Homo sapiens: one gene and its partner. The protein of the gene in region 1 interacts with the protein of each later gene in a pairwise test. Each region holds a gene or a part of one and is shown on either strand. Other genes may lie near its edges.

Region 1 (13,792 bases):
GAGAAAGCAAAAGACAGTGAAAACAATAGGAAAGCTGGATGTAGCACTGAGTTCAGGGGCCAATAATAGGTTTTACCTAAGCACTTATGTTAGAGAAAATTAGTTCAGTGAAGAAGAGCAGAGAGATGCCGGGTGTGGTGGCATGCCTGTAATCCCGGCATTTTGGGAGGCTGAGGCGGGCAGATCACCTGAGGTCAGGAGTTCGAGACCAGCTTGACTAACATGATGAAACCTTGTTTCTACTAAAAATACAAAATTAGCTGGGCATGGTGGCACATGCCTGTAATCCTAGCTACTCAGGAGGTTGTGGTAGGAGAATCGTTTGAACCCGGGAGGTGGAGTATGCAGTGAGCTGAAATCGCACCACTGCACTCCAGCCTGGGTAATAGGAGTGAAACTCCTTCTCAAAAAAATGAAAAATAAAATAGGCTGGGTGTGGTGGCTCACACCTGTAATCCCAGCACTTTGGGAGGCCAAGGCGGGTGGATCACCTGACGTCAGGAGTTCAAGGCCAGCCTGACCAACGTGGTGAAACCCCTTCTTTACTAAAAATACAAAAATTAGCTGGGCGTGGTGGTGGGCGCCTGTAATCCCAGCTGCTTGGGAGGCTGAGGCAGGAGACTCGCTTGAACCCGGGAGGCAGAGGTTGCAGTGAGCCAAGATTGCGCCATTGCACTCCAGAGCCTGGGTGACAGAGCAAGACTACATCTCAAAAAATAAATAAATAAAATAAAAGTAACAATAAAAATAAAAAGAACAGCAGAGAGAATGAGCAAGGAGAAATGTCACAAACTATTGCAAAATACTGTTACACTGGGTTGGCTCTCCAAGAAGACACTGGAATCTCTTCAGCCATTTGCTTTTCAGAAGTAGAAACCAGCAAACCACCTCTAAGCGGAGAACATACGATTCTTTATTAAGTAGCTCTGGGGAAGGAAAGAATAAAAGTTGATAGCTCCCTGATTGGGAAAAAATGCACAATTAATAAAGAATGAAGATGAAAGAAAGCATGCTTATGTTGTAACACAAAAAAAATTCACAAACGTTGGTGGAAGGAAAACAGTATAGAAAACATTACTTTAACTAAAAGCTGGAAAAATTTTCAGTTGGGATGCGACTGACAAAAAGAACGGGATTTCCAGGCATAAAGTTGGCGTGAGCTACAGAGGGCACCATGTGGCTCAGTGGAAGACCCTTCAAGATTCAAAGTTCCATTTGACAGAGCAAAGGCACTTCGCAAGGAGAAGGGTTTAAATTATGGGTCCAAAAGCCAAGTGGTAAAGCGAGCAATTTGCAGCATGACTGCTTCTCCTAGACAGGGCTGAGTGGGCAAAATACGACAGTACACACAGTGACTATTAGCCACTGCCAGAAACAGGCTGAACAGCCCTGGGAGACAAGGGAAGGCAGGTGGTGGGAGTTGTTCATGGAGAGAAAGGAGAGTTTTAGAACCAGCACATCCACTGGAGATGCTGGGCCACCAGACCCCTCCCAGTCAATAAAGTCTGGTGCCTCATTTGATCTCAGCCTCATCATGACCCTGGAGAGACCCTGATACCATCTGCCAGTCCCCGACAGCTTAGGCACTCCTTGCCATCAACCTGACCCCCCGAGTGGTTCTCCAGGCTCCCTGCCCCACCCATTCAGGCCTCTGCTCAAATGTCACTCCCACAAATAGAGACTCTCTCACTACCTCTGCCAAAAATAGCTCCAAGTCAACTCCATCTCTTCTCCCTGGTTCAGTTCTCAAGGTTCTTCCATCACTGCCTAACCTCTTACTATATGCTTATCATTTGTCTTCCTCATGAAAACCTAGGCTTACGTGGGCAGAAACTGTTTTAGCCATTGCTGATCCCCCGGCACCAAAAATAGGGCTTGGCATCCTGCATGAGCTGAACAAGTATCTGTTGAATGAATCAAAGGAAAAAAAACTTCACCAAAACAATAATGATGTATCATCTTGGCATGTAACCTGGTTATCACTGAGCTGGAGTTTGAGCCTAGTTTTGTCAATAACTTGTTGTGCAGCCTTGGGCAAATCACTTTACCTCTCTGGGCCCATAATGCCTCCCTTTTGAAACAAGGCAGTTGATCAAGTGAGGACTAAAGTTGCCTTCCACGCTGGGCACAATGGCTCAAGCCTGTAGTTCCAGCACTTTGGGAGGCTGAGGCAGGTGGATGGCTTGAGCTCAGGAGTTCAAGCCCTTGTCTTTACAAAAAACACAAAAATTAGCTGGGTGTGGTGGTGCGTACCTGTGGTCCCAACTACTCAGGAGGCTGAGATGGGAGGACTGCTTGAGCCCAGGAGGTCAAGGCTGCAGTGAGCTGAGATCACGCCAGTGCACCCCAGCCGGGGTGATGGAGCGAGACCCTGTCTCAAAATAAATAAATAAATAAATAAATAAAACTGGCCAGATGTGGTGACTCACACCTATAATCCTAGCACTTTGGGAGGACAAGATGGGCGGATCACTTGAGGTCAGGAGTTCGAAACCAGCCTGACCAAATGGTGAAACTCTGTCTCTACTAAAAATACAAAAATTAGCCAGATGATGTGGTGCAAGCCTGTAATCCCAGCTACTCGGGAGGCTGAGGCAAGAGAATTGCTTGAACCCACGAGACGGAAGTTGCAGTGAGCCAAGACCGCGCCACTGCACTCCAGCCTGGTGACAAAGCGAGAATCTGTCTCAAAAAAAAAAGAAAAAAAATTATCTGGGGCTGGGCGCAGTGGCTCATGCCTGTAATCTCAGCACTTTGGGAGGCCGAGGGGAGTGGATCACAAGGTCAGGAGTTCAAGACCAGCCTGGCCAATACTGTGAACCCGTCTCTACTAAAAATACAAAAATTAGCTGGGTGTGGTGGCGCACACCTGTAGTCCCAGCTACTCGGGAGGCTGAGGCAGGAGAATCACTTGAACCCGGGAGACGGAGGTTGCAGTGGGCTGAGATCCTGCCATTGCGCTACAGCCCCGGCAACAAGAGCGAAACTCCGTCTCAAAATAAACAAATAAATAAAATAAAATAAAATAAAGTCTCCTTCCAACTTTTCAGTCTGTGAAACAAAGATTTGATCTATTCCTCAAGGCAAGTTGTTACTAGCTGAGGGTGGGCTTGGATTTACCTCAGATTAATGAGTTTTTAAAATCTGAGTTGATTCTTTTCAATAATTTTCTATTCAAGCAGGACAGAGCTGGGTAAAAGGTAAAAGGGAGGCAGGGGTCTGACAGGATCACAGCGCTGCTGTGAGAAAAAAACGACTCCACAGCCTGAAATTTTATTATTTTTTCCTTATTATCTTTTTTTTCTGAGACAGGGTTTCACTGTCACCAAGGCTGGAGTGAAGTGGCGTGATCACTGCTCACTGCAGCCACGACCTCCCGGGGCTTAGCTGATCCTCCCACCTCAGCCTCTGGAGTAGATGGGACTACAGGCCCGCGTCAGTACGCCCAGCTAGTTTTTGTATTTTTTGTAGAGACGGGATCTCACTGTGTTGCCCAGGCTGGTCTCAAACTCCTGGGGTCTAGTAATCTGTCTGCCTCCGCCTCCCAAAATACTGGGATTACAGACATAAGCCACTGAGCCTGGCCCTAGAAAGTTTATTAAAGGGGCCGGGCGCGGTGGCTCAAGCCTGTAATCCCAGCACTGTGGGAGGCCGAGGTGGGCAGATCATGAGGTCAGGAGATGGAGACCACCCTGGCTAACACGGTGAAACCCCATCTCTACTAAAAAATACAAAAAATTAGGCAGGCGTGGTGGCGGGCGCCTGTAGTCTCAGCTACTCAGGAGGCTGAGGCAGGAGAATGGCCTGAACCCGGGAGGCGGAACTTGCAGTGAGCCAAGATGGCACCACTGCACTCCAGCCTGGGTGACAGAGCAAGACTCCGTCTCAAAAAAAAAAAAAAAAAGAAAGTTTACTAAAGGGCAGAATGACAGCCACTCTCCCGCATTCTTTGAGGCACCAAGATGACACAAATCAAGTTGGGTCAGGGGAGGGACTCACTCTGACGGAAGAGGATGGACTGATGGATGGTAGAAGTCACCAGTGGATGGAGAAAAAGCAGGAGCTGCTTTTAGTTCCCCTAATACTGAAACTGAACAGCGGGGCCTGGAATCCAGAACCCCTGTTTCTCCTCCTCATAGGCCTCAAATGACCAACTCCAGACTCCGGGTCTCAGCTTCCCTCGTACGACACCAGGCATTATTGATGGGGGCACAAGACCCTCCAAAAACCACGATTACCAAACTTCTGTGTCCAAGGAGAATCATGCCCTTCCAGGTTCCTGAGAGACCAGACTTCAGATTCCCGGGAGAATGCCAGGGGTCTCGCCTTCGCCAACCCCTACCCCAAGTCACTTTAGGTGGAAGCGTTTGGGGCTGATGCTCCGGAAGCTGAACCAGGAGGAGCTAATAGCTTCAGGACCCTGTGATGTCCCCATCGCCACCAACAGGTGGGATCCTCCTGAAAACCAGACGATTTGCGGATCCTGTTGCTCCCAATAACAGGCAACTTTCAGAGTACGGTGACGGGGCTCCTGGAGCCCTGTCACCAGAAACGGGAAATAAGGCGTGGGGGGCGAGGCTTTCGTGTCCCTTGAGAGGCTGGTGGCTTTGGGGTCCGGCAGAGGCGGGTGGGGGTCCTGCGGCTTTGACGGAGGTCGCGCCCCCAGGTCGCCGAGGAGCGGCCCCCCACCCGCCGCGGTCGCGACCCGTCAGCCCAGATCTTGCAAGGAGCCCGCGACTCCTCCCTCGCGGCCCGGCCCGCGCTCACCGCCTTCTCCAGGTGGCTGCGCGCCTGCTCGCTGTTCTTGGTGTGGTGATAGAGAACGGAGCCCAGCTGCAGGTGTGTACGGGCCTCGATGCGCTGCGGCGGCTTGAAGGGGAACACGGCCTGCAGGCAGTGCACGCACAGGCGGATTTTGGGCGGGCTGGAAGTGCGGAAGTGCTCAGCGAAGCCCAGAAGCGCCAGGTACCACGAGTCGGCCGCCTCGGCCTGCGCAGCCTGGGCCGCCGCCGCCTGGGCCGCTGCCGCCGCCTGAGCCGCCATTTTGGCCTCCACAACAACAAGCCGCCGCCACAGGGAGGCGGAAGCAGGCGCGCGAGACGGGGCCGGGCTCTCCTCGCGGCTTCCGCGAGATCTGCCGCCCAAAGCATCCTGGAACATGTAGTTTGTATTTGGGATGACTGCCGCTCCGGGAAGGTGTAAAAGGGCGACGCCGTTTGGTTATCGTGACTGGGACTTAGGCATCGCTGATAGGCTGAGGCTTCCGTTTCTGGAGGTTAAAAAAAAAAAAACCCAGTCGTTCACGCAGTAATAGGGCGAGTCTGACCGAGGCGGACTACATCTCCCATCAGGCGATGCACACTATAACAGGGCCCCTTAAGGGGCGCCGGAGCATTGTGGGATTGGATGAGTCTCAAGATGGACAACCGGGATGTTGCAGGTAACAGCCCCCGCCTCCTCTCAGGCGGCCGCCTGGGTCCCTGGGGCTAGGTGTCTCCCCTGACTCCTCGGGTCCGTCCTGCTGCGACCCGTGGATCCCTCGCTTCAGCCCCGGGGCAGCCCACAGCGTCGGCTTCTGCACCTCTTGGTTTCTCGAGACCCCAGACCCAGGTTGCTGGCCGCCCCCGCTTGGTTTGCTGAGGACGCACGGATCTCCGTAGAGGCCGCCACCCGGCTCGGCCCTGCGTCCCGTTTCCGAAACAACCGCCTTCAGGGCTGCTCCAACCTCCGTTCCCCAATACGGCGACAACCTTGGGCTGTCCCTGCACCCCTCTTTTCGTCGCAGCTGGCCTCTGGCCTGTGTCCCGCTTTCTGGAAAAGCTGCTTTTCCGAAGTGCTTTGAGGCTCCCTTGACACACTTTCCCGCGTCTTTTGACCCTCACTTTGCTGCAAGCCTTGGCCTTTCTGCTTCCCCAGAATAGAATGCATTTACCCATCAGCAGATACTTAGGGCGTGCTCACTGTGTGCCAAGCAGTGTGCTGGGCGCTACGCATGCAGCGGTGACCGAAACAGGGCCCTGCCTTCCTGGAGGTTGCTTTCTACTGGGGTGTCAGTGCATTAATGAGAAAATATTTACAAAAACTTACGTATGATGTGAGGTTACGTATGATATGATCAGAGTGGAGGCTTCTGATATTGGGTAGTCAGGAAAGACCTTTTCTTTCTTTCTTTCTTTTTTTTTTTTTTTTTTTTTTTGAGACAGGGTCTCACTTTGTCGCCCAGGCTGTAGTGCAGTGGCTCACTGTGGCTCCCTGGGTTCAGGTGATCCTCCCACCTCAGCCTCCCTAGTAGCTGAGACCACAGATGCGCGCCACCACACAGCGAATTTGTGTGTTTTTTGTGTTGCCACGTTTCCCATGCAGGTCTGGAATTCCTAGGCTCAAGCGATCCTCCCATCTCAGCCTCTTAAAGTGCTGGGGTTACGTAAAGGTGTGAGCCACCACACCTGGCCCAGGGAAAGGCCTTTTCAAGCAGAGGACATTTGAGTTAAGACAATGAATGCCAGCTATGGGAATCCCTGGAGGGTGGAGCCTTCCACACAGAGGGGGGCCAGTAAATGCAGAGGCCCTGGTAGGATGGGCTTGTCCTTTTGAAGAATGTCAAGGATGAAGCAGAAGGGAGGGGAACCATCTGGCGGGGCCTTGAAAATGGCCTTTTAGAATTCTTTTTTTCTTTTTGTTGAAGCGGAGTTTCGCTCTGTCGCCCAGGCTGGAGTGCAGTGGCACGATGTCGGCTGACTGCAACCTCTACCTCCCGGGTTCAAGCCATTCTTCTGCCTCAGCCTCCTGAGTAGCTGGGATTACAGGCGCCGGCCACCGCACCTGGCCAGTGTTTTTGTGTATTTTTAGTAGAGACGGGGTATCACCATGTTGGCCAGGCTGGTCTCGATCTCCTGACCTCAAGTGATCTGCCTGCTTCAGCCTCCCAGGTGCTGGGATTACAGGTGTGAGTCACCATGCCCGGCTCAGACTTTTAAAATTTGGATTTTATTCTGAGTCCCATGGGGAACCTCTGAGGTGTCTTCCCTGTCTCCATACTATCACCCTAGTCTGAAGACATCATTGTCTGTTGCTTGGAGCCAGTGAGCCTCCCTGGTCTTGTTGCCTGTGGATTCTCTGGCCAGAATGATTACCTAGTAGCCAGGATGAAAATAAAACGACCCTGTGGATATTGGCTAGGTGTGGTGATCCATGCCTAAAATCTCAGCATTTTGGGAGGCTTAAATGGGAGGCTCCCTTGAGGACAGGAGTTCAAGATTAGCCTGGGGAACATAGCAAGAACCTGTCTCTACAAAAAATAAAAGAAAATAGCTAGGCCTGGTAGAGTGTGCCTGTAGTCCTAGCCACTCGGGTGGCTGAGGTGGGAGAATCTCTAGAGCCCAGGAGTTTGAGGATGCAGTGAGCTACGATCATGCAACTGCACTCCTGCCTGGGCAACTCAGCGAGACCCTGTCTCAAAAAAACAAAACAAAACAAAAAAAACGGCTGGGTGTGGTGGCTCACGCCTGTAATCCCAGCACTTTGGGAGGCTGAGGTGGGTGGATCACTTGAGGTCAGGAATTCGAGACCAGCCTGGCCAACATGGTGAAGCCCCATCTCTACTAAAAATATGAAAAAATTAGCCAGGCATGGCGGCAGATGCCTGTAGTCCCAGATACTCGGGAGGCTGAGGCAGGAGAATCGCTGGAACTCTGGAGGTGGAGATTGCAGTGAGCCAAGATCGCGCCATTGCACTCCAGCCTGGGGGAAAAGAGCAATACTTCATCTCAAAAAAAAAAAAAAAAAAAAAGAAGGCTGGGTTCGGTGGCTCACGCCTGTAATTCCAGCGCTTTGAGAGGCGTAAATTGGAGGTTCCCTTGAGGACGGGAGTTCGAGACCAGCCTGGACAACATGGCGAAATCCTAACTGTACTAAAAATATAAAAATTAGCCAGGTGTGGTGGCTCACGCCTGTAATCCCAGCTACTCAGGAGGCTGAGGCAGGAGAATCGCTTGAACCTGGGAGGTGGAGGTTGCAATGAGCCGAGGTGGTGCCACTGCATTCCATCTTGGCTGACAGAGTAACAGTTCGCCTCAAAAAAAAAAAAAAAAAAAAGCCACTGGGGCACGGTGCCTCATGCCTGTAAATCCCAGCACTTTGGGAGGCCAAGGTGGAAAGAATGTTTGAGACCAGCCTGGGCACTATAGCAAGACCTCATCTCTATGAAAAAATTTAAAAATTAGCCAAGTGAGGTGGTGCATGCCTGTAATCCAAGCTATTTGGGAGGCTGAGGTGGGAGGATTGCTTGAGCCGGGGAGGCGGAGGCTGCAGTGAGCTGAGATCACACCACTGCACTCCAGCCTGAGAAACAGAGCCAGACCCTGTCTCAAAAAAAGACCCAATGGATCTTGCATTCTTCATCTTAGTGCTTCTCCATCACTCCCCAAAGCCCTTATAATAAAGCACAGATGCTCTGACATGCCTCACCTCTGCCTGTCCCTGGAGCAGGCCCCTCTGACACTGGGCACTTGCTGCTCCTTGGATGTACCAGGCTTCTTCCTGCCTTGAGCTTTCACATCTGCTCCTTCTTCTGCCCAGATCATCTCCCATTTGGCTTTTCATGACGCTGGCTTCTTATTTGTTTTTTCTGGTTTAAATGTCTCCTCTTCTAGTGTTTATTTTCTGCCTGTCCTACCTGCATATGTACTCTCCTGTTACTTTTTCACCCTTTTTTGGTTTTCAGCAGAGCTCTTACCACATTGTGCACTTACTTTTTTTTTTTTTTTTGAGACAGAGTCTTGCTCTGTTGCCAGGCTGGAGTGCAGTGGCACCATCTCGGCTCACTGCAACCTTCACCTCCCTGGTTCAAGCAATTTTCCTGCCTCGGCCTCCCTAGTAGCTGGGATTACAGGCACATGCCACCATACCCAGCTAATTTTTGTATTTTTAGTAGAGACAGGGTTTCACCACGTTGGCCAGGCTGGTCTCGATCTCCTGACCTCAAGTGATCCGCCTGCCCCTGCCTCCCAAAGTGCTGGGATTGCAGGCATGAGCCTCTGCACCAGCCCGAAAGTTACTTTTTTATTATGGGTCTATTGTCTTCCCAGCCTGAAGCGAGTCCCACGTGGGCAGAGACCTGTGTTCTCTTGCATAGCACGTAGTAAGTACAGGGTATGGTATGCAGCAGGCACTCTGTAAGTGTTTGCTGAATAAATGAACTAATAGACATATAAATTAATCTGAACATCAGTTGCTCTCTGGCCTGTCACAGCTTCTTGGGGTGTTTGTGGAGTAAGGGTGATTTCCGACGTACTCCTTTTCCCTCCCCAGGAAAGGCTAACCGGTGGTTTGGGGTTGCTCCCCCTAAATCTGGAAAAATGAACATGAACATCCTTCACCAGGAAGAGCTCATCGCTCAGAAGAAACGGGAAATTGAAGCCAAAATGGAACAGAAAGCCAAGCAGAATCAGGTGGCCAGCCCTCAGCCCCCACATCCTGGCGAGTAAGTGCCTGCTGGGGCCTGGATGGGGCCTGGATGTGAGTCTTTGAGGGTCACCAGCACAGGGTTTGGCTTGTGAGGGCAGTCAGCATGTGCTTGCACCCAGCCATAGCCTGATGATCCAAGGAATGACCCAGATGCCCTTGGGAGGCTCACTGTGGCAAGAGAGAAATGAGGGGTATGTGGAAGCCCAGAGGACAGCCTGCCAACTCATCCACTCAGCAGTTATTTACTGCCAGCCAGCTGTGGTGCAGAGGGAAGGGGTATAACAGAGTAAAAATCTCTGCCTTGAGTTCAGGTGTGCTGCCTCACACCTGTAATCTCAGCCCTTTGGGAGGCTGAGACAGAGGATCACTAGAGGCCAGGAGTTTGAGACCAGCTTTGCCAACATAGTGAAACCCCATCTCTACTAAAAAATACAAAAAATTAGCTGGGCATTGTGGCACGTGCCTGTAGTCCCAGCTGCTCAGGAGGCTGAGGCACGAGAATCTCTGGGATCTGGCAGGCAAAGGTTGCAGTGAGTTGAGATCGTGCCACTGTACACTACCCTGGGCCATAGAGTGAGACTCTGTCTCAAAAAAAAAACAAAAAAAAACCTCTGCCCTTATGGGGTGACAAACTACTGGCAAAGGGATGCAGGTGCCGCCCCAGAGCTCCTGGAAGATAACAAAGGCAGTGTGTTCCCAGGCCCCGTGGCCACAGTAAGGCCACAGAGCTTTGCATCCTGAAAGCCCAGGTGGAGCTGGCCCACTGAGGAAGCAGAGAAAGGCCTGCCCAGCAGAGGGCAGGAAGGGGAGAGAGCCCATATGTGGAGGGCCAGCCTGAGCTGCTGTACCAAAGGGGCTGTCCCTTAGTGGATGGCAGGTGGATGATAGCTCAGCAAGGGTTTCCACTTGCCTGTCCTGAGAAACACTGAGGGCACCAAGGGTTTTGATCAAGGGGTGATGTTGTGATGAGGGTGACCAGATCCAAGCTTTTCAGGCTGGAGATTGATAATCTGAGAGGCAGGCCCCTTCCTCTGGGGTCTGGAGTGTAGAGTGTGTTAACCTTCCCCAAGGCCTTGTTCCAGCTCCAGCTTTTCCTTTTTTTTTTTCTTTGAGACAGGGTTTTGCTCTGTCACCCAGGCCGGAGTGCAGTGGTGGGATCATGGCTCACCGAAGCCTTGAGCTCTTGGGCTTTAGCAGTTCTCTTGCCTCAGCCTCCCAAGTAGCTGGGACCACAGGCACGTGCCACCATGCCTGGCTAATTTTTTTCTATTTTTGTAGAGATGAGGTCTTGTTATGTTGCCCAGGTTGGTCCCGAACTCCTAGACTCAAGTGATCCTCCCACCTTGGCCTCCCAAAGGGATTACAGGTGTGAGCCACTGCACCCAGCAGCGTTTGCCTTTTCTTCTTTCTTTTTCTTTTTTTGTTGCCTAGGCTAGAGTGCAGTGGCACGATCTCAGCTCACCACAACCTCTGCCTCCAAGTTTCAAGCGATTCTCCTGCCTCAGCCTCCCAAGTAGCTGGGATTACAGGCATGCGCTGCCACGCCCAGCCAATTTTGTATTTTTAGTAGAGGCGGGGTTTCTCCTTGTTGGTCAGGCTGGTCTCAAACTCCTGACCTCAGGTGATCCGCCCCTCTCAGTCTCCCAGAGTGTTGGGATTACAGGCGTGAGCCACTGCACCCGGCCAAGAACCAGCATTTTTATCTCCCAGTATTTGTTACCAGTGGTTTTCAGGTGGGAGCCGTTCGCTGTACTCTGCAGCCTGAATGTGATTTCTTGTCTTTCCTTGTCCCTACCTCTTCCTGGTCCCTCCTGAGTGAAGTGCTCAGGGTGTGAGTATGGGGGCAGGCCCAGGAACTGAGGGGTGCCCAGAATGTCCTGGTTGTTTAGTGTCAACATTGAACCTTCTTTTTCATATAAAATTACTTCTACTCCTTCTTTTTTTAAACTTTAAAGGTAATTCATGTACATGGTAGGAAATCCAGGAAGTAGAAGAGGGGTAAACAAAAAACCAAAGTCACTCATAACTCTGCAACACAGAGACAAGCACTGGTTGAGTGTTGAGGTGTTTTTCTGTTTTTTTTAATTTTATTTAATTAATTAATTTATTTATTTTTGAGACGAGTCTTGCTCTGTCACACAGGCTGGAGTGTAGTGGTGCCATCTCGGCTCACTACAACCTCCGCCTGTTGGATTCAGGAGATTCTCCTGCTCAGCCTCTCGAGTAGCTGGGATTACCAGTGTGCGCCACGATGCCCGGCTATTTATTTATTTATTTATTTATTTATTTATTTTATTTTTTGAGACAGAGTCTCACTCAGCCGCCCAGGCTGGAGTGCAGTGGTGTGATCTTGGCTCACTGCGACCTCCGCCTCTTGGGCTCAAGTGATTCTCCTGCTCAGCCTCCCGAGTAGCTGGGATTACAGGAACCCACCATCGTGCCCGGCTAATTTTTGTATTTTAGTAGAGATGGGGTTTCATCATGTTGGCCAGGCTGGTCTTTAACTCCTGGCCTCAGGTTGTTCCTCCCACCTCGGCCTCCCTAAGTGCTAGGATTACAGGCATAAGTCTCTGAGCCCGGCCATTTTTTTGTATTTTAGTTGAGACAGGGTTTCACTATGTTGACCAGGCTAGTCTTGAACTCCTGGCCACAGGTGACCTACCCGCCTCTGCCTCCCAAAGTGCTGGGATTACAGCCTTGAGCCACCGTGCCGGGCCTGTTTTATTTCAGAGGCAGGATCTCACTCTGTCACCCAGGCTGCAGTACAGTGGCACTATCATAGCTCACTGCAGTCTGGAATTCCTGGACTCAAGCTATCTTCCCACCTCAGCCTCTTGAGTAGCTGGGACTACAGATGTCCACTGCCATGCCTAGCTAATTTTTAAATTTTGTGTAGATGGGGTCTCACTATGTTGCCCAGGTTGGTTTTGAACTTCTGGGTTCAAGTGATCCTCCTACCTTGGCCTCCCAAAGCATTAGGTTTACAGGTGTGAGCCACTGCTCCTGGCCCGATGTGTTTGTCTAACAATTTTTTTTTATATTTGAGATGAAGTCTAACTCTGTTGTCCAGGCTGGAGTGCAATGGCGCGATCTTGGCCCACTGCAACATTCGCTTCCTGGGTTCAAGTGATTCTTCTGTCTCAGCCTCCCCAGTGACTGGGATTACAGGTGCCCGCTACCACGCCCGGCTAATTTTTTGTATTTTTAGTAGAGACGGGGTTTCATCATGTTGGCCAGGCTGGTCTTGAACTCCTGACCTCAGGTGATCCGCCTGCTTTGGCCTACCGAAGTGCTGGGATTACAGGTGTGAGGTCCCGCACCCGGCCTTTGTAACAATTTTTAATTCAAATGTATTTTGATGTAAGTAGAACCACACTGTAGATACTGTTTTATAGCCTGTCCTTTTGTTTTTTTTTATTTATTTATTTTATTTATTTATTTTTTTTTTGAGATGGAGTCTTGCGCTGTTGCCCAGGCTGGAGTGCAGTGGCACGATCTCGGCTCACTGCAGGCTCTGCCTCCTGGGTTCACACCATTCTCCTGCCTCAGCCTCCTGAGTAGCTGGGACTGCAGGTGCCCCCCACCATGCCCGGCTAATTTTTTTTTTAATTTTTAGTAGAGACGGGGTTTCACTGTTTTAGCCAGGATGGTCTCGATCTCCTGACCACGTGATCCACCCGCCTTGGCCTCCCAAAGTGCTGGGATTACAGGCGTGAGCCACCGCGCCTGGCCTTGTTTTTCCTTTAACATTGTATTTGATTGCTTGTCTAAAATTTCAACTTTTCAGGGCTGCCCCATCTTCCCTGTGGATGGCCCGTAATTTATTTAACCAGTGCCCCTTGTTGATGTATTTAGGTTATTTTAGTTCTGATGAACTAAAAATTATTCCTTTCTCCTATTTAAAGGAAAAAGGCTAGCCCTGTGGACTCCATGAGCTTTTTGCACCATTGGGTACATCCATATGGTGGAACGTCATGCGGGTTTAAAAAGCAGCGTATGTGAGGAATTTGAGATTGGAGCAGGATGGTGTGCTACAGTAGGAAATGGAAGAAGTAGAGTGTGTGCTGTGATCACAGCCTTATTTCCTCTGACTTCTAATTTAGAGAGCAAAATAAAGATATATACCAGTGTTAATAGTGGCTGTTGCAAAGTAGGGAGACATTGTTGGGTTTTTCCATTCCTTTCTGTTTCAGTTTTTCTTTTTATTTTTTTTTAAATGATCTTACTCTGTCACCCAGGCTAGAGTGCAGTGGCATGATTGCGGCCCACTTCCGCCTTGACCTCCTGGGCTCCGGTGATCCTCTGGAATGCTGGAATTATAGGCACA
Region 2 (11,322 bases), on another chromosome or scaffold:
CTGGAGTGCAGTGGCACATCACAGCTCGCTGCAGACTCAACCTCTCTGGCTCCAGTGATCTTCCTACCTCAGCTTCTTGAGTAGATGGGACCACAGGTGCATATCACCATGCCCAGCTAATTTTTGTATTTTTTTTTGTAGAGAAAGAGATTTGCTATGTTGCTCAGGCTGGTCTTGAACTCCTGAGCTCAAGTGATCTGCCTGCCGTAGCCTCCCAAAGTGTTGGGATTATAGGCATGAGCCACTGCACCCAGCCTGCAATTTAAAACAAAAATCATTTCCTATTTCTCAATAGTTCAGACATTATTTGGTATCTGTTATGTCTGTTGCATGTCCTGCTTTATCTGAGAATGTTTCACTTGGAGAAGGAAGCCTTTCTGATCTCCCTCAACCATCCAGACTATGTCAGTGCTACATACTCTCCTGGCTTCTATTACTTTTCCTTTCAAGCACACATCTCAGTTGTTATTAAATTGTGTACTTTGTGGTCATTTCCTGTCTCCACTACTGGAATGCAAACTTACTGCCAATGGGTGCAGCACAGCTCATAGTAGGCACTCAGCAAATACTTGTCAAATGATGGAATCTGCAAAAACTAAAGATAATAAACCAGTGTCAGTACCAAAGAAAGAATAAGCCATTGTTTTAGCTCAGGAAAGGAGTATAGAATGTACCATGTGATTCCTTGATCTCCACAATGCAACTCTTCACTTTACTAATTAATTCCCAAGGCCACACTCTATACCTTGCACCCAGAACTGCTCTCAGGAATCTCTTACATCCCTTTCTCTGATCATATCATCCAATTATTCCACATCTGCTGCTCACACTCATACTTGCTCTCCCACTTCATGGAGACTTCTGAGCTTGGATTCTTCCATTTTCTCTGAATCTAGCTCTTCAACTAGAGCTATCCCCGCATCCTGGCTTGATGCCATACTCAATTCTTTGTTGGGAGCTGAGTACTACTGGAGAAAAACAATACAATCATGCAGTTTGGCATCACCACAATTTCTCTACATTGTAGCCAATTACTGATCTTTCTGAACTACAGCCCTTAGTATTATCTTACCCCATTTAAAGCTCTTCCAAATTCCTAAATGTGACATTTTAAATGCTTTATTATTTGCTTCCCTCCCCAGCTTCCCTTCTCAGAATTTCAGTACTCTATGTAGTTATAGCTTAGCCGTTGGTAGCCTCCAAGATCCTCCCCTTGCTCTGTGCTGCTCCTACTCTACAGCTTAAATGCTGTTGACTCCAATAGGGTCCCCACCCTGGCTACCCAAGTGTCATGCTTGTGTATATTCCCACCTCTGAACATCACCATCACCTGAATGTCCCACAGGCACTATCAACATATTTAAAATTGAACCTGGTGACTTAAGCCAAAGAAATCTGATAGCTATCCTTGTCCTGATGTTTTTATTTCCTAAATACATTTGCAGATCACTCCAATCTTCATCCCTACTGCCATCATCCTCCTAGTTCAGTCTCTATTTCTGAGACTATTGCATTAGTGTCCTCTTCTTGACATCCTTGTCTTTCCCCTATGTAGCAGAGTGATCGTTCATCAATCCCTTGAGCCCTTCAACTGCCTATACATTAAAATGATCAAATTATATTACTACATTACTAAAGTTATCAAAATTGCATACTTATCTCTCCTTTCTATGGCTTCATCTTTTGACATTGTACTACACGCACGCCAGCTCCTCTACTCACTATGCTGCTCCCACTTTCAGAATTCCATCCCCCATCTCCCCACTTAACCCAGCATTCTGATTCTCTCTCTCTAATGTGTCTACACAAAACCTAAGTATAGATTTCTTTAAATAAGCTTCCACAAAATAAGCTAAGTGATTTTGTTTACATTTCATTTCACACTTGTTTCAGAAACCCATGGCTTTGTCTATGGCTATGACTATGTCTTCTGACTTCAAAGTTAATACTCTTTTTCACTAACCTAAGTTTTAGTCTTCTACATCAAGCCAGGTGATGTAGAAATAATTAAAACACAATAAAATATCACATTTTCCCTTTTCTACCTAATAGGATGGTAGGCATCACAAAATCTGAGAACACAAAACGTGGATCTTTTGAAAAGGTATAGAAAAAAAAATCAGTAAAATTTAGTCATTAAGTAGCCTACATTCAGATCTTAACAGGAGACTGAATAAGAACTTCCCAAGGTTAAATCTTCCTTATGGGAGATAAGAACCCAGTTTTGCTTTTGACTCTAGCAATAAGTAGGTATGCAGCTTGGTGATATCAATTCACCTCTTTGAGCCTTAATTTCACCTTCTTAAACCTGTAGTCATTCCATAGATTCCCAAGATAGGCCAAAGACGGAAATGGGATGGGGATGTCCATGAACCCCTTGAAATTTTATGCACAATTCTGAATATGAACTTATTCTATTTTCTAAGGAGAGAGATTTCTCGGCTTTCATTATATTCTCAAAGGGGTTAGTAAATTCCAAAGTGATTAAAAACTTCAGATTATTTGCCATCTCTCATATGACTGTATAAATATTTTTAAAACTATGGAATTGGAGATCCATTATTGGTTTAAATTTTATAACAAACTTAGACCATAATAACCTTTTTCTGTTCTTTGCTCCAGGATTTAAATCTAGTAAGGTTAAGGCTAAATTACAATTCTAGGCATGTTATAATCAAGAAAAGCTTACTCTGGTATTTCTTAGCAGAAGAAAGGTCAATGTAAAGGGTTTGATAAAGCAACACTAACTTTTCATTTTAAGTTCTATGTGATTGAGATTTAAACAATGACTGAAAAAAGTCACAAAAGGGCAAAATTCCATTCAACAAAAACTGTAACACCCTGAAAGCTGTATCATTAAAAAAATCATAGCCTGCAGTCAACTTATTTCAAGCAGTATGTATTACAAAATTACTGACCAACAAAAGGAACTCTGATTATAGGGCATCCTCTGGCATCTAGTTCAGCTTCCATTTCCTTACTTTAAATCTCTATCTCCAACTGCCTGCTTGGTTATTTGCCAACTCCAAATCAAAGGATTAATCAATGCTTATCACCATCTTCCTGAAAAGTGGACCTATCTCCGTACTTCATTACCTCTGTAGTGGTACTCTGTTCTAGTTATACAGGCTCAAGCTACTTATGAATTTGAAAGAGATCCAATATCTCTCAAGCCTACAATAACTTCAGGTAAGAAAACTGATTAAAAATCAGAAAACAACTAGACTCTCCATTTAGAATCAACTACTTATTTATTTTTTTTTTGAGACGGAGTTTCGCTGTGTCGCCAGGCTGGAATGCAATGGCGAAATCTCGGCTCACTGCAACCTCCGCCTCCTGGGTTCAAGTGATTCTCCTGCCTCAGCCTCCCAAGTAGCTGGGACTACAGGTGCGTGCCACCACGCCCAGCTAATTTTTGTATTTTTAGTAGAGAGAGGGTTTCACCATGTTGGCCAGGCTGGTCTTGAACTCCTGACCTCTTGATCCGCCCGCCTTGGCCTCCCAAAATGCTGGGATTACAGGCATGAGCCACCGCGCCCAGCCCCTAGAATCTACTTAAGAACCCAAGGAAAAATACTTGTGTTTTCAATATAAGAAATTTGCAAGGAATAAAAAGACATGAGAAAGCCTACAGAAAGGACCTAAAAAATATGACATTTATGAGAAAATAAAAAATTTAAACACTTACTGGATATTTGATATCAAGGAAGAATATTTAAAGATAACCTATTTATGGGGCTGGGCACGGTGGCTCACGCCTGTAATCCCAGCACTTTGGGAGGCTGACGTGGGTAGATCGTGAGGTCAGGAGATTGAGACCATCCTGGCTAACATGGTGAAACCCCGTCTCTACTAAAAATACAAAAAATTAGCCGGGCATGGTGGCGGGCGCCTGTAGTCCCAGCTACTCGGGAGGCTGAGGCAGAATGGTGTGAACATGGGAGGCGGAGCTTGCAGTGAGCTGAGATGGGGCCACTGCACTCCAGCCTGGACGACAGAGCAAGACTCCGTCTCAAAAAAAAAAAAAAAAAAAAAAAAAGATAACCTATTTATGGATAAAATAAAATGATGCCTGAGACTTGTTTCAGAAAGAGTGGAAAGGGGTGCATGGAGTACAGCTCAAATAAATTTGGTCAGAAATTCAGAATGACTGAAACAGAGGAATGGGTAAATGGAGATTCTCTTAAAGTAAAAATAATTTACAAAATTCTTATAAGAAAAATAATTGTGTACACCGTACCACTCTCAGCAGTGAAGCCATATACAATTGGGGTCTTAAAAACGAAGGGTGGCTTGGTACTCACATCATCATGCAAAACACACAGGAACTTTATGACCACTTAGTCAACAGAGTACCAAACTGAATTTGTTTGGTCAGTGACTTTCTATTACACTAAATTTGCATGTAATTGTTTCTCGGCTAGCACCAATAGGACAGACTGTATTTCAGAAAAAAATTCAAGTGAAAAATTAGTAAAATCATTTTGTAACAAATGCTGCCTATGACAAACATTAGCTATAGGACTAAACAAACTTTGGTTTTAAAATGAGCAAGGCAAACAGCAAAAGGTTCAAACACGTAGGATTTTTATGGGGCAAAAATTACTATCAAGTGTTTCAAATTACATTATTTCAAGTGGGTAATCTGATGAGTTTTATATTTGCAAAAGTAATCTTATTCCAATTATCCATATCCACAGTTCTGAAGATGCAGACCACCTGGACACAGGTAGTGACAAGGATGAATTTTTCTGTGCAACTAAAAGTGGTGGGTAGGGGAGGGAGAACCACATACTTCCCTGGTTAATTTATTTCTAAATAAAAATACGGTAAATTTGCTTGCTGATCATGAAATCTGTATTGAACAAACATCAGTTTGACTTACCTGTTTTCATGAGACAGACTATGGTCATAAAAATCACCTGTGTGCTTCAGTTACCTGAATAATTCAAATACTCAACCTATCAACAGAGTAAGCTATATATTTCTCTCAAAAAACTCAGCATTTCTTCCATTAGAGATTACTACATCTAGAAAATTCTAGAGATCACTGAATTTTCTGCCATGTGTATTTTGGTATGAACATATTTTTAAAACTAGCCATTCTTTCTTAATAAACAATTTCAATAAGGCTAAAATTTCATATTAATGTACTTAAAAAGTGAAGAGATACTTGAAAATTTTTATATCAAATATAACCTATCTTTTCAAGTCAATATAACAAGATTAATCTATGGTAATTAATCAACACACTATAGAGTAAGACTGAACTTTCTAAATACTTAATAGAACTTTGTGAATCCCCAATATACTTAAAGTTTGATTTTGTATATTTGACTGCCAAAGCTTTAATAGTGTTAAGACCTAACAATTCATCTTGAAGAATCTTCAACTTTCTGAAAATTTTGGTTTGTATATTTAAGAGTTAAGGCTTATATTAACATTTGGCTTCTATTAACAGATAAAATAGGAGCTTAGAATATATACAAAATTTCAAAACTGATTCCTAAAATTCCTAAATTTCTTTTTCTTTTTTGAGATGGAGTTTCGCTCTTGTTGCCCAGGCTGGAGTGCTATGGCGTGATCTCGGCTCACCGCAACCTCCGCCTCCTGGGTTCAAGCGATTCTCCTGCCTCAGCCTCTCGAGTAGCTGGGATTACAGGTATGCACCACCACGCCCGGCTAATTTTGTATTTTTAGTAGAGACGGGGTTTCCCCATGTTGGTCAGGCTGGTCTTGAACTCCTGACTTCAGGTGATCTGCCCGCCTCGGCCTCCCAAAGTGCTGGGATTACAGGTGTGAGCCACCGTGCCCTGCCTAAAATTCCTAAATTTCTAATGAGTGGCAAACACAGAATTCCATCTATGGCCAACTGAGGCAACAGAAGACTTACTACTGTGTACCTACTTCCTAAAAATTACTCTGAACAGGATTCCCAAGTATGTATACTACAAGGATCCTTTAGGAACTGGTTTACTTCAATAAGGATCATCTCTCTTAATGTCTGATGTTCAATTAGCTTAGAGTAGTGAGACACAATTACTTCAATTCCAGATTTAAATCCCTATCATGACATTAGTAAATTACCAAATCCTTCTAAGCCTGCTATCCTCATCTACAAAATGAGGATAAAATATATAACGAGAGTTTTTGTGAGAATTAAATGACAGCATGCATCACTGTCACGTAAATAGAATTCAAAACTGGCTTTTTACTCACATTTACATTCTTAGTACTCTCTCTGGGCTGGATTTTATTCTTATATTTTCTCTAACCAGTACCCTTTTTGATATATTATTCTCAGAAGTGACCTCAAATCCTTTGTTGATATACATAAACTCCAAGAAGAACCAACCAACCAACCAACCAACCCAATCTAGTTTTGTTCCAGAGTTCACAGTATAAGGAAAAGAGAAACATGTAAGTAAGGGGAACAAAACGAAGAGTGAGAAAACATTTCCGTGAAGAAAGCATTTGAAAGAATTCCACATAGGAAATAGATCCTGAAAAGTTATTTTCATAGTGGTTTAATAGGTGTCACAAAAAGGTATTTTGTGGCAATGTCATTCTTCCTCAAAAATTGAATACCTTCATTTATTTGCCAATTTCATAAAACAGCATTCTGGAGGTCAATTTTTTCAAAGTGATTTAAAAATAAGTAAAACATTTTTAAAAAGAATTAAACTTGAAACAGACCTCATCCACTGTAAATTTTAGGCATTACTATTCCTGAGTGTCAACTATACATATCAAATGATTAAACACCTCCCTCCTGATTTAGTCAAGATATCTGCAGTAAGTAATGTGTAAATGACAACTGTTCCCAAGACTTATGATAAAAGCTTTTAGCATAGATTAGAAAATGAATAAACATCTCAACAAGTAAAATTACTCTTTTCAGCATTAAAAAATAATTTGTGAAAAATGTAGTGAGTGTAATTATGAAGTGTCATATTCATCTCAACTCTAGTTCTAAAATAACCGGACATCATTTTAACCAAGAGAAATGCTGGTTTTCCAAATAACAGGTTACCTTTACCCGAGGTTTAAAGAATAAATATCAGCATCATGACATCACTAGAAAGAAATTGAAGCATACAAGGAATAAACTATAGTTTCTTTTTATATCAAAATGTACTCTTGAAAATGTGTTTGGCACAGTGCTAAATCATATATAGTTAATACTAAATATTGCAGGATACAATAAAACCCTGGAGTTAATTGTTTACACCCTCTTATGGGAATGAAAATAATAGATACCAATTATTCAGAAGTCAGCCTATACAAACTGTATAAACAATATTTTATGTTTTGCTTTGAAAACCAGTGATATAATAAATTTTACATAAAAGACTGTAAAATAATATAAATGGATTTAAACAGATTTTTACAATAAGAAATTCAAATGGAAACAGACAAGTAACAAAGAGAAGTAAAAAAATTTATTGCAGTATTCGCTCCACCAGATTACCTGGGGATCCCTTTTCTTGTATTGTTTTCAGGGTGACCTAATACATCAAAATCTACATTTACAAAAACTCCTTCTGCAGATAGGTCATAGATACTGCATGCTTTTTTTTTTTTCAACAGAATAAATTATATATCCAGGAGATTCTGCCATTTTACAGCCTGGAAAAAACAATGCTTCCCTGGAAACTGGGCTAAGCTAAAGAAAGCCATCCGCTGCTAGGTTAAACTCCAAGAACACTTTATTAAGAACATTAACAGACTAATTTCCAACATTCACTTGTTTATTTTTTTTAAACAGAAAGTTTTTTTTCCAAGATATAAACAATTTTTGTTAAACTATAATACAGTGGGAGTAAAAATGAACTGAGAATCTGTTTCTGCTGCACAACAGCGAAGGGAGCTCCCACAAAAATGTTTGCCCAACATTTCCTTCTTTTGTTCCTGCATCCCAGGTTCCACTTACTCTTCATAAAACTGATTTTTTTTTGCCAGAATGTTGGTATTTCAAGTTTTTCTGCCTTTTAAAAAAATTCCTGTAAATTTGGCTGCATGTACAAATTCATTAGCTGGAAGTCCCATCCTTGGCGGCATACAGGGATCGTAAAGTCTGAACAACTTTATTAGTCAGCTTATTAGCACTCGTTAGAGCAATTTTTTTGTAAATAATGTCTGACTCTTTAATAGTGTCTACCCAAGGCACCAGTTTGCGGCCATCACGGCGCTTAGCCTCAGTCCAGGAGCCACTGTAGGAGCCTGCCATCCACTGAACACTGAAGCCACTGCTGGTTTTCTGCACTACTCTTGCAATTTGTGGTCGATCTTTGTACTTTGGACAGCAAATAGCGATGACATCCATGACGTCAACACTTTCATTCATCTGTGCTGCCAACTCCGTAGAGTCTGAATTTCGTTTTGACCTTCTCAATGACTAAAACATTGGGAGGGGGGAAAAAAGACCAAGTGTTACACAAAAGAATTTTAGTGAAATTATTGTTTTTATTGCTTTTAATCCCTTGACGCCGGGAGTTGGGATTTCCCGGCACACTTCCATTGCCGGCAATGAGACGCACCGTGACCGCCAGCGCCAAGGGGTTAACATATACTTGTAAAACCATATAACTCTTAATTTGTACCCGTGTCTTTACTCTTATTGATATATAAAATTATATATACATATGAACCATATAGCTACATAAAACTTAGCAACAATAAAAATAACACACATTAATACAATTCAAAGAAAAATTAACCCTTTATGCTGGATAAATCTCATTTCTGTTTTTTTATTGTCTTTTATGTTAAACTTTCTACAAAAGGATGTATAAACGGGTAAGTAGAGAATCTCTATCTACAAAATGTTTTCTCTTTTAAGTATTACATTACTTGGTGTACATTTAATAGACTGACATATATAAGCACATAAAAATCATTTTACGTAATACGCTGCGAAATACGTTGACTCCTCCTCCGCCTCACCCCTGAAGTGCCTCCTCCTCTATCCTCCCCATCACTTTCATCATCTTCTGTCTCTGCTGCTGTATTATTTTTAGGGCTGCCTCCTCCAAGCAGTGAGGTAATTGCTTTGTTCCGAGCATTTGTGCTAGCTGAAACCTCCCCTTCTTCTTCTTCTTCATCAGGGTCCAGATGTTCCATGAGAAGTTTGAACTACAAAAAACAGATATTATTTCAGAATTTTAAGTAAATATTTCAAGCAAGATTGTCAAATTCCTAAATGTTTTCTATGGCAGTAGTTTGGTGTGGGTGAAACAGACGTTAGCCATCATCTAAATTAGGGGCTAGTAAACATTTTCTGTAAACAGCCAGGTGGTAAATATTTTTCATTTTGAAGGTCAAATAGTCTGTCACAACTACCCAACTCTGCCACTGTAGTATGAAAGCAGCTACAGACAAATAAATGAGTGGGCATGAATGTTTTCAATAAAACTTTGTTTGCAAAAACAGGCAATGGGTTAGATACAAAAACAGCCAGAGTTTTCAGACCCTTGGTCCAAGTCATCAAGCAATCAGGTGATAATTACTGATAGACATTTTCTAGTTATCTCCCCTCTTTGCTCTCTGCTAAGACGATACAAGAGAAAGCAAAGAATGTTGAAAAATTTTAAATAAGAACTAAAATATTTTTAAATTTTAGAGTAAGGTTTGCAGTCAATGAATAATATGAAAAGCCACTGTGTAGATTATATTCTTAGTTCAAAAAACCTTATTTTATGTTCAGCTACTTGCTTTAAAGTAGATTTTTAAAAATTTTTTTAAGAAAAATAGAAATGGGGTTTTGCAATGTTGGCCAAACTGGTGTCAAACCTCTGGCCTCGAGTGATCTGCCCACCTCAGCCTCCCAAAGTGCTTGTGAGCCACTACACCTGAAATTAAGTAGATTAAAATATAAAACTTTATTTTTATTTTTTAGGATAGTCCTCTAATTTCAAAAACATTTTTAAAAACTTTTATATTGTGATAAAATAGAAATATCATAAAATTTGCCAGCTTAACCCTTTTTTTTTTTCTTTTTAAATTGAGACAGGGTCTCACTCTGTCACTCAGGCTGAAGTGCAGTGGCACGATCATGGCTCACTGTAGCCTCCACCTCCCAGGCTTAGGTGGTCCTCCCACCTCAGCCTCCCCAGCAGTTGGGACTACAGGTGCACACCGCCATGTCTGGCTAATGTTTGTATTTTTTGTAGAGACAGGGTCTCACCCTGTTGCTCAGGCTGGCCTGGACTTCCTGGACTCAAGCAAACCTCCTACATAGGCCTCCCAAGGTGCTAAGATTACAGGTATAAGCCAGCATGTCCAGCCTACCAGTTTAACCATTTTAAATGTATAATTCATTGGCATATTGTACAACTATCACCACTGTCCATTTCCAGAGCTGTTTCTTTTTTTTTTTAATCACTGGAAACCACAGCTGTCCTCATTAAACAATAACTCCCCGTTCTTTCCTTCCCCGGTCCTTGGTAACCTCTAGTCTATTATCTGTCTCTATTTTTAAAGCACATTTTATATACATACATTTGCATACTTGATAAGTGAGAAAATCTACATATATATATATTGGCATTACTCATATAAGAACATACGAAAAAGTAATAATATTGGTTATCAGAAAAGAAAGGAACAGAATAGCCAAACACGGTAAGAGAATGACTGCTTGCAGTTTTACCTTTTATGACATATAAGCCATGTATTTTTCTGAATTAAAAACATAGCCCTCTGTATCCCCGGATTCCGCACCTGCGGATTCAACCCACAGTGGATCAAAAACTATTTGGAAAATGCCACAATAAAAAATAACAGCACTGGCCAGGTATGGTGGCTCATGCCTGTAATCCCAGCACTTTGGGAGGCCGGCGGATCACCTGAGGTCAGGAGTTTGAGACCAGCCTGGCCAACATGGTGAAACCCCATCTCTACTAAAAATACAAAAATTAGCCGGGCGTGGTGGCTGGCGCCTGTAATCCCAGCTATGCGGGAGGCTGAGGCAGGAGACTTGCTTGAACCTGGGAGGCAGAAGTTGCGGTGAGCCGAGATCGCGCCATTGCACTCCAGCCTGGGCAACAAGAGTGAAACTCCGTCTCAAAACAAAACAAACAGCATTACAATAAAAAATACAACTTAAAAAAAATGCAGTATAACAACTATGTATATAGCATTTACATTGTATTAGGTATTATAAGTAATCTAGAAATGACTTAAAGCATATGGGAGGATGTATGTAGGTTATATGCAAATACTATGCTTTTTAAATAATTTTTTTGAGACAGGGTTTCACTCCTGTCACCCAGTATGGGGTGTAATGGTGCAATCTCAGGTCACTGTAACCTCTGCCTCTCA

Evidence for each region.
Region 2: the proteins of MAU2 (region 1) and NIPBL interact in binary tests that used the Homo sapiens proteins (3 or more experiments, as listed by UniProt).

Annotation. Positions count from the first base shown.
Region 1 is NC_000019.10:19,312,111-19,325,902, reverse strand, and holds the start of MAU2 (MAU2 chromatid cohesion factor homolog), read right to left. Parts: upstream 5,075-13,792; 5' UTR 5,044-5,074; coding exon 4,768-5,043; intron 4,736-4,767; exon of another isoform or gene 4,000-4,735; intron 1-3,999. Other genes in the region: SUGP1 (SURP and G-patch domain-containing protein 1), read left to right, coding at 5,407-5,440, 9,310-9,481. UniProt on the Homo sapiens protein: Plays an important role in the loading of the cohesin complex on to DNA. Forms a heterodimeric complex (also known as cohesin loading complex) with NIPBL/SCC2 which mediates the loading of the cohesin complex onto chromatin.
Region 2 is NC_000005.10:37,061,603-37,072,924, reverse strand, and holds the end of NIPBL (nipped-B-like protein), read right to left. Parts: intron 9,136-11,322; coding exon 8,947-9,135; coding exon of another isoform or gene 8,902-8,946; exon of another isoform or gene 8,399-8,901; coding exon 8,033-8,398; 3' UTR 6,512-8,032; downstream 1-6,511. UniProt on the Homo sapiens protein: Plays an important role in the loading of the cohesin complex on to DNA. Forms a heterodimeric complex (also known as cohesin loading complex) with MAU2/SCC4 which mediates the loading of the cohesin complex onto chromatin.